2 linked regions of the Homo sapiens genome follow. The protein of the gene in region 1 interacts with the protein of each later gene in a pairwise test. Each region holds a gene or a part of one and is shown in the gene's direction. Other genes may lie near its edges. The genes, in order: CASP2 and RAI1.

The links.
Region 2: the proteins of CASP2 (region 1) and RAI1 interact in a two-hybrid assay, tested with the Homo sapiens proteins (one large-scale study listed by BioGRID and IntAct).

What each region holds. Positions count from the first base shown.
Region 1 is NC_000007.14:143,305,043-143,308,203, forward strand, and holds the end of CASP2 (caspase-2 isoform 1 preproprotein), read left to right. Parts: coding exon 1-29; 3' UTR 30-2,654; downstream 2,655-3,161. UniProt on the Homo sapiens protein: Is a regulator of the cascade of caspases responsible for apoptosis execution. Might function by either activating some proteins required for cell death or inactivating proteins necessary for cell survival.
Region 2 is NC_000017.11:17,799,762-17,803,576, forward strand, and holds part of RAI1 (retinoic acid-induced protein 1), read left to right. Parts: intron 1-3,815. UniProt on the Homo sapiens protein: Transcriptional regulator of the circadian clock components: CLOCK, BMAL1, BMAL2, PER1/3, CRY1/2, NR1D1/2 and RORA/C. Positively regulates the transcriptional activity of CLOCK a core component of the circadian clock.

The sequences.
Region 1 (3,161 bases):
ACCTGTTCCCAGGACACCCTCCCACATGATGTCACCTCCCCATCATCCACGCCAAGTGGAAGCCACTGGACCACAGGAGGTGTGATAGAGCCTTTGATCTTCAGGATGCACGGTTTCTGTTCTGCCCCCTCAGGGATGTGGGAATCTCCCAGACTTGTTTCCTGTGCCCATCATCTCTGCCTTTGAGTGTGGGACTCCAGGCCAGCTCCTTTTCTGTGAAGCCCTTTGCCTGTAGAGCCAGCCTTGGTTGGACCTATTGCCAGGAATGTTTCAGCTGCAGTTGAAGAGCCTGACAAGTGAAGTTGTAAACACAGTGTGGTTATGGGGAGAGGGCATATAAATTCCCCATATTTGTGTTCAGTTCCAGCTTTTGTAGATGGCACTTTAGTGATTGCTTTTATTACATTAGTTAAGATGTCTGAGAGACCATCTCCTATCTTTTATTTCATTCATATCCTCCGCCCTTTTTGTCCTAGAGTGAGAGTTTGGAAGGTGTCCAAATTTAATGTAGACATTATCTTTTGGCTCTGAAGAAGCAAACATGACTAGAGACGCACCTTGCTGCAGTGTCCAGAAGCGGCCTGTGCGTTCCCTTCAGTACTGCAGCGCCACCCAGTGGAAGGACACTCTTGGCTCGTTTGGGCTCAAGGCACCGCAGCCTGTCAGCCAACATTGCCTTGCATTTGTACCTTATTGATCTTTGCCCATGGAAGTCTCAAAGATCTTTCGTTGGTTGTTTCTCTGAGCTTTGTTACTGAAATGAGCCTCGTGGGGAGCATCAGAGAAGGCCAGGAAGAATGGTGTGTTTCCCTAGACTCTGTAACCACCTCTCTGTCTTTTTCCTTCCTGAGAAACGTCCATCTCTCTCCCTTACTATTCCCACTTTCATTCAATCAACCTGCACTTCATATCTAGATTTCTAGAAAAGCTTCCTAGCTTATCTCCCTGCTTCATATCTCTCCCTTCTTTACCTTCATTTCATCCTGTTGGCTGCTGCCACCAAATCTGTCTAGAATCCTGCTTTACAGGATCATGTAAATGCTCAAAGATGTAATGTAGTTCTTTGTTCCTGCTTTCTCTTTCAGTATTAAACTCTCCTTTGATATTATGTGGCTTTTATTTCAGTGCCATACATGTTATTGTTTTCAACCTAGAAACCTTTATCCCTGCTTATCTGAAACTTCCCAACTTCCCTGTTCTTTAAGACTTTTTTTTTTTTTTTTTTTTTTTTTGAGACAGAGTCTCGCTCTGTCGCCCAGGCTGGAGGGCAGTGGCACGATCTCAGCTCACTGCAAGCTCCAACTCCCGGGTTCACGCCATTCTCCTGCCTCAGCCTTCCAAGTAGCTGGGACTACAGGTGCCCGCCACCGTGCCCGGCTAATTTTTTTGTATTTTTAGTAGAGACAGGGTTTCACCATGTTAGCCGGGATGGTCTTGATCTCCTGACCTCATGATCCACCCACCTCAGCCTCCCAAAGTGTTGGGATTACAGGCGTGAGCCACTGCGCCCGGGCAAGACCTTTTTTTAAAAAAAAAAAAAAAAAAACTTCCATTCTTTCTTCCTCCAGTCTGTTCTCACATAACAGAGTAGTTTTGGTTTTTAATTTTTTTTGGTTGTTTGCTGTTTTTTGTTTTTTAAGGTGAGTTCTCACTATGTTTCTCAGACTGGTCTCGAACTCCTGGCCTCAAGCCATCTTCCCGCCTCAGCCTCTCAAATAGCTGGGCTTACAGGCATGAGCCACCACACCTGGCCAGGATTTGGTTGTTTAAATATAAATCTGATCACCCCCCTGCTTAGAACCCTTCTGCTTTCTATTACCCCTCATTTAAAATGTAAACTCTTCACCTTGGTTTATGAGAACTGGTTCTTGCCTTCCCCTTGAACCTCATTAAATGGTGATTTCTTGCTAAGCTCCAGCCCGAGTGGTCTCCTCTCAGCTTCTAATTTTGTGCTCTTTCCTGCCCTTTTCCTGGGCCTTCTCAGCTCTCCACCCCCACCACTCTTGACTCAGGTGGTGTCCTTCTTCCTCAAGTCTTGACAATTCCCGGGCCCTTCAGTCCCTGAGCAGTCTACTTCTGTGTCTGTCACCACATCTTGTCTTTTCCCCTCATTGCATTTATTGCAGTTTATATATATGCTACTTTTACTTGTTCATTTCTGTCTCCCCTACCAGGCTGTAAATGAGGGCAGAAACCTTGTTTGTTTTATTCACCATCATGTACCAAGTGCTTGGCACATAGTGGGCCTTCATTAAATGTTTGTTGAATAAAAGAGGGAAGAAGGCAAGCCAACCTTAGCTACAATCCTACCTTTTGATAAAATGTTCCTTTTGACAATATACACGGATTATTATTTGTACTTTGTTTTTCCATGTGTTTTGCTTTTATCCACTGGCATTTTTAGCTCCTTGAAGACATATCATGTGTGAGATAACTTCCTTCACATCTCCCATGGTCCCTAGCAAAATGCTAGGCCTGTAGTAGTCAAGGTGCTCAATAAATATTTGTTTGGGTGGTTTGTGAGCCTTGCTGCCAAGTCCTGCCTTTGGGTCGACATAGTATGGAAGTATTTGAGAGAGAGAACCTTTCCACTCCCACTGCCAGGATTTTGTATTGCCATCGGGTGCCAAATAAATGCTCATATTTATTACTGATGTGTGCTCAATATCTGTTTCTGTAGATACTCAGTCCTCTGAAGCCCACAGATTTCGTTTCCTTAGCCCCTTACACTGCAGCATTCCTTACCACCTCACAAGGCATACCCAGACCTGAAAACCCTTCTTATTTTGCTGCTGTGATCCTGTAAATATATGCAGGTGTGGGCCCATCTCAGTTTGCGTAGTCCTGGGATTTCTCACAGATGAAATGGAAGTTATTAGCAAACAGTGCTGGTTCTTGATTATTTAGACTATGAGATGTAGGCTGCCATAACAGATTGGGCTGGAATAGAAGGATGGGAGAGTGAAGATAGTAAAATTCCATTTCTTACCTGGTTGCATTTAAGGTCTTCTAGAGTGGGCATAGATTGTAAGAGAATTCTAGTGCAGCATAGAAGAGATCAAAGCAATGAATTTGTGTAAGTTGGGATATTTTGGGGGTGCATTGTATCTAAAGGATATGCCTGAGAGGTAAGTGCAGGTGCAGATGGGCCATGGAATTTG
Region 2 (3,815 bases), on another chromosome or scaffold:
TCGCCCCTCCCCCTGCCCAGCCTCCTCCCCCGTCGCTGCACTGCCCACCTGCTCCTCGCAGTACACCCCTGCAGCCCCTCTGAGCAGCCCCTGCTCCTGACAGTTGCCGTGGCATTGCCTGGCCAAACCAAGGTCCCGGTGGGGGCCCACTGTGTTTGCCACCCACGCCTCCTAGTGTGTGTCTTGGGCACCTGCTTCCCACTGCCCATGGGGATGGCTGGAGACCTTCTCCACGCCCAGACGCCCTGCCCACCTCACTCCACCCTCCACCTCAGAGGAAGGCTGGCCCCGACAGGACTCCTGCAGGTTCCTGGTGCCGCGGGCCTTGCTTACCCAGCAGATGGTGGCCTTGGGCCTCTTCCCTCTCCCCTTCCCAGTTAGTGATTTTTTGCCTCTCTCCTGCTTTCTGTCTCTCTCTGTCTCTCTCTCTCTCTCTCTCTCTCTCTCTCTCTCTCTCTCTCTCTCTCATTACTGGCTCCTTCCCAGCGCCTTGAAACAGGTTCAAGTCTCTCCCGTCATCAAAAAATAATAACCCTCAGATCACCAGCCCCAGCTGGCTGCCACCTCCCCTGCTTCACAGCCCCATTCCTGAAAGCCTTGTCCCCACGGCATCCTCGGTCCCGCAGCCTCACCAGGGGCTCCCCGACACTCACGTCCCACCAGGCTGAGATCAGGTCGTCTCCACATCCCCTGCAGCCAGCACTGGCCGGCCGAAGGGAGGAGGGGTCAGCCCCGAGCACCGACCACCCCATCCTGTCCCTGGCCCATGGGTGTCTTAACCGCCCATGCACACACAAGGTCCTGCTGGACTGAGGAGACAGTGTGTGTTGGAGAGGCGCTAGCTTCCCTACACCACGCGGGGGCTGGAACTTGCCAGCCCAGCCCATGCCTGTCTGCTGTGCCATGCTCCAGAAATGGCCTGACAGCCTGCGCAACTAGGGCTGCCCCGGGAAGGTCGGAACCAGGAACACCCTGCCAGACAGATGGGACATCCTGGGAGAATGGGCAGAGTCTGGGGCTTCCCAGGGTCACTTTTGGCTCACCACCCCTTCCTGCCTCAGTGGCTTGGGGGCGCCATGCTCCTTGGAGTGAGACCCTGGTTCAAATCCCAGCTCTGCCGAGGGCTGGTTCCATAGCTCCAGGCGAGTCACGCATGCTCTGAGAACTCCACAATGTCAAACCCCGTTAGCAGGATTGTGGGGTTCTGTGGATCATGTGGGACCTGCCTGGCATGTGGAAGGGGCTTGGGGTGCAGCTGTGTCCCTGGCCCCAGCACTGCCACACCCCTCGGTACCTTGACCTCACTTTTGCGCTCTGGAGGGCAGAACCTCTGAGCCAGCTCTCAGGGATACCTTTTTTCCTCGATGGCCTTTTCTGGGAACTGCCCTCGCCTGCTATCTCTGAGCCCTGCCTGCCCTTCCCCCAAAGCCATCATAGACCCCTACCTCCTATCCAGATGGAGCCTGGCCATGGAATGCTTGGGGTGAGAGGGACCCATAGCGGGCTCCGGGCATTGTTAGGGGGCTAGGTGGTGTCTGCAGAGGCCCCACCTGTGGCAGGGTTTACATGCCGCCACCCCTGCCCTCCTCTTGGGTAGCTGGGGTCAGAAGGGCCTGAGGCCTCACTCTCTCTGCATCTTAGTTTCTTCACATCTAAAATGCTATTCATATGCCTGCCTGAGGGTGGTTGGGGCCTCCGTGCAGTAAGTGGAGAGAAGCCTTCAGCCAGAGGACCCCCATATGCTTAAACATCCAGACACCAAGGGCCACTCACAGACAGCAGCCGGCTTGTGTTTCGTCATCCCTTTTGGGTCAGGAACTGGGGACGCTGGACTCCAGATCTCCAGGAGGCCATCCCAGACTAGGCGGGAAGGAGGCCTCAGCCCTGAGCTGAAAACCTGAAATTCTAGAATAAACCCCAGGCCCCACTCCCAGCATGGGCAGCGGGGAGGGGAGTGTTCTGACATTTCTCAGCTGCTGTGGTTGGGATGGTGCGCCCACCCTGAGCATGTGGGGTCCTGTGGGCCCCTACTCCAGCCTGGAGGCAGCTGCAGGGGTCAGAGACCAGCCTGGAGCCCTCGGGCAGGTTACTCAGCCTCAGCTCTCATTGGTAACCCAGGTAAAATAACAGTAATCCCATCATAAGGTTGCTGTGGGCATGAGGCTTCCAGCCATGCCTGGCACATAGGAAGCTATTGTCGTTTGTTTCACTGGCTTCGCACTTGGGCAGAGGCCGCCGCCCTCTCTGCTGCCTTCTCTACCTCACCCCCCGCCCCCAGCACGGTGGCACTGTGGCTCTGGCGCCTGGTGACTTCTCCCTCCCCGGCCTCAGGTTTGCTTCACTCTTCCAAGGGCCTTCTTGGTGTGACTGTCCTGTCCTGGCCACGTCCACTCCAAGCAGCTGGTCCAGGTGTGGGGCAGCCCCCAAGCTCAGCAGAGGACAGTTTTGAGACTTAGAGGAGGACGGCATCAGATTTACATGAAGTCAGCCATCTCAAGGGATTACCACGTCACCGCCTCCTCTCACAGGTCTGAGAGCTGGTCCCCTGGAGGGTGCAGGTCTCATCCTAGGTAGAACAGTCCCAGCCTAGCTTCAAAGTGCTCCTGCTGCCAGAAAGGGTAGAAAACCATGCTGAATGCCTTCACTGTTGCCTGGAATGGGAGCCTCAGTTTCACCATCTGTAAAGTGAGATTAATGAAAGGGACCCACAGAGGGCTGTTAGAGCCAGTAGGCGGCCAGGCGCGGTGGCTCACGCCTGTAATCCCAGCACTTTGGGAGGCTGAGGTGGGCGGATCACGAGGTCAGGAGATCGAGACCATCCTGGCTAACACGGAGAAACCCCGTCTCTACTAAAAATACAAAAAATTAGCCTGGCGTGGTGGCGGGCACCTGTAGTCCCAGCTACTGGGGAGGCTGAGGCAGGAGAATGGCGTGAACCCGGGAGGCGGAGCTTGCAGTGAGCCAAGATTGTGCCACTGCTCTCTAGCCTGGGCAACAGAGCAAGACTCCATCTCAAAAGCAAAAGAAAAAAGAGCCAGTAGGCCAGGCGCTATGTCTTACACCTGTAATCCCAGCACTTTGGGAGGCCTAGGCAGGCAGATCACCTGAGGTCGGGAGTTCGAGACCAGCCTGGCCGACACAGTGAAACTCCGTCTCTACTAAAAATACAAAAATTAGCTGGGCATGGCAGCACATGCCTGTAATCCCAGCTACTCGGGAGGCTAAGGCAGGAGAATCACTTGAACACAGGAGGCAGCGGTTGCCGTGAGCGGAGATCACACCATTGCACTCCAGCCCCGGGGGGACAGAGTGAAATTCTGTCTCAAAAAAAAAAAAAAAAAAAAAAAGCAAGCCAGTGGGCAAGGACACACACCACGCCCAGCACACCAGAAGCATGCAGCAGATGCTGGCTGGTAGCCACAGCCATGGTAGTAACTGGCATCACTGGCCCAAGGGGGTCTCCCTACCCAATGTACCAGCCCAGAGGGTGCTAAATGACCCATGTTTGTGGGCATGTGTACCCCAGTGCTGAACCTCCTTCTGGTAGATTTTCAAGCACCATTTTGGAGAAGGGAGGCAGGGACCACAGGGGGCCAGCCAGCCTGTACAGGTTTTTTGTGTTTTTTTTGTTTGTTTGTTTGTTTGTTTTTTGAGGCAGGGTCTCACTCTTGCCCAGGCTGGAGTACAGGCAGTGGCGTCATCTCGGCTCACTGCAGCCTCAACCTCCCAGGCTGCAGCAATCCTCCCACCTCACCTTCCTGAGTAGCTGGGACTACAGGCACACACCACCAACCCTCACTATTTTTTGTAGAGAC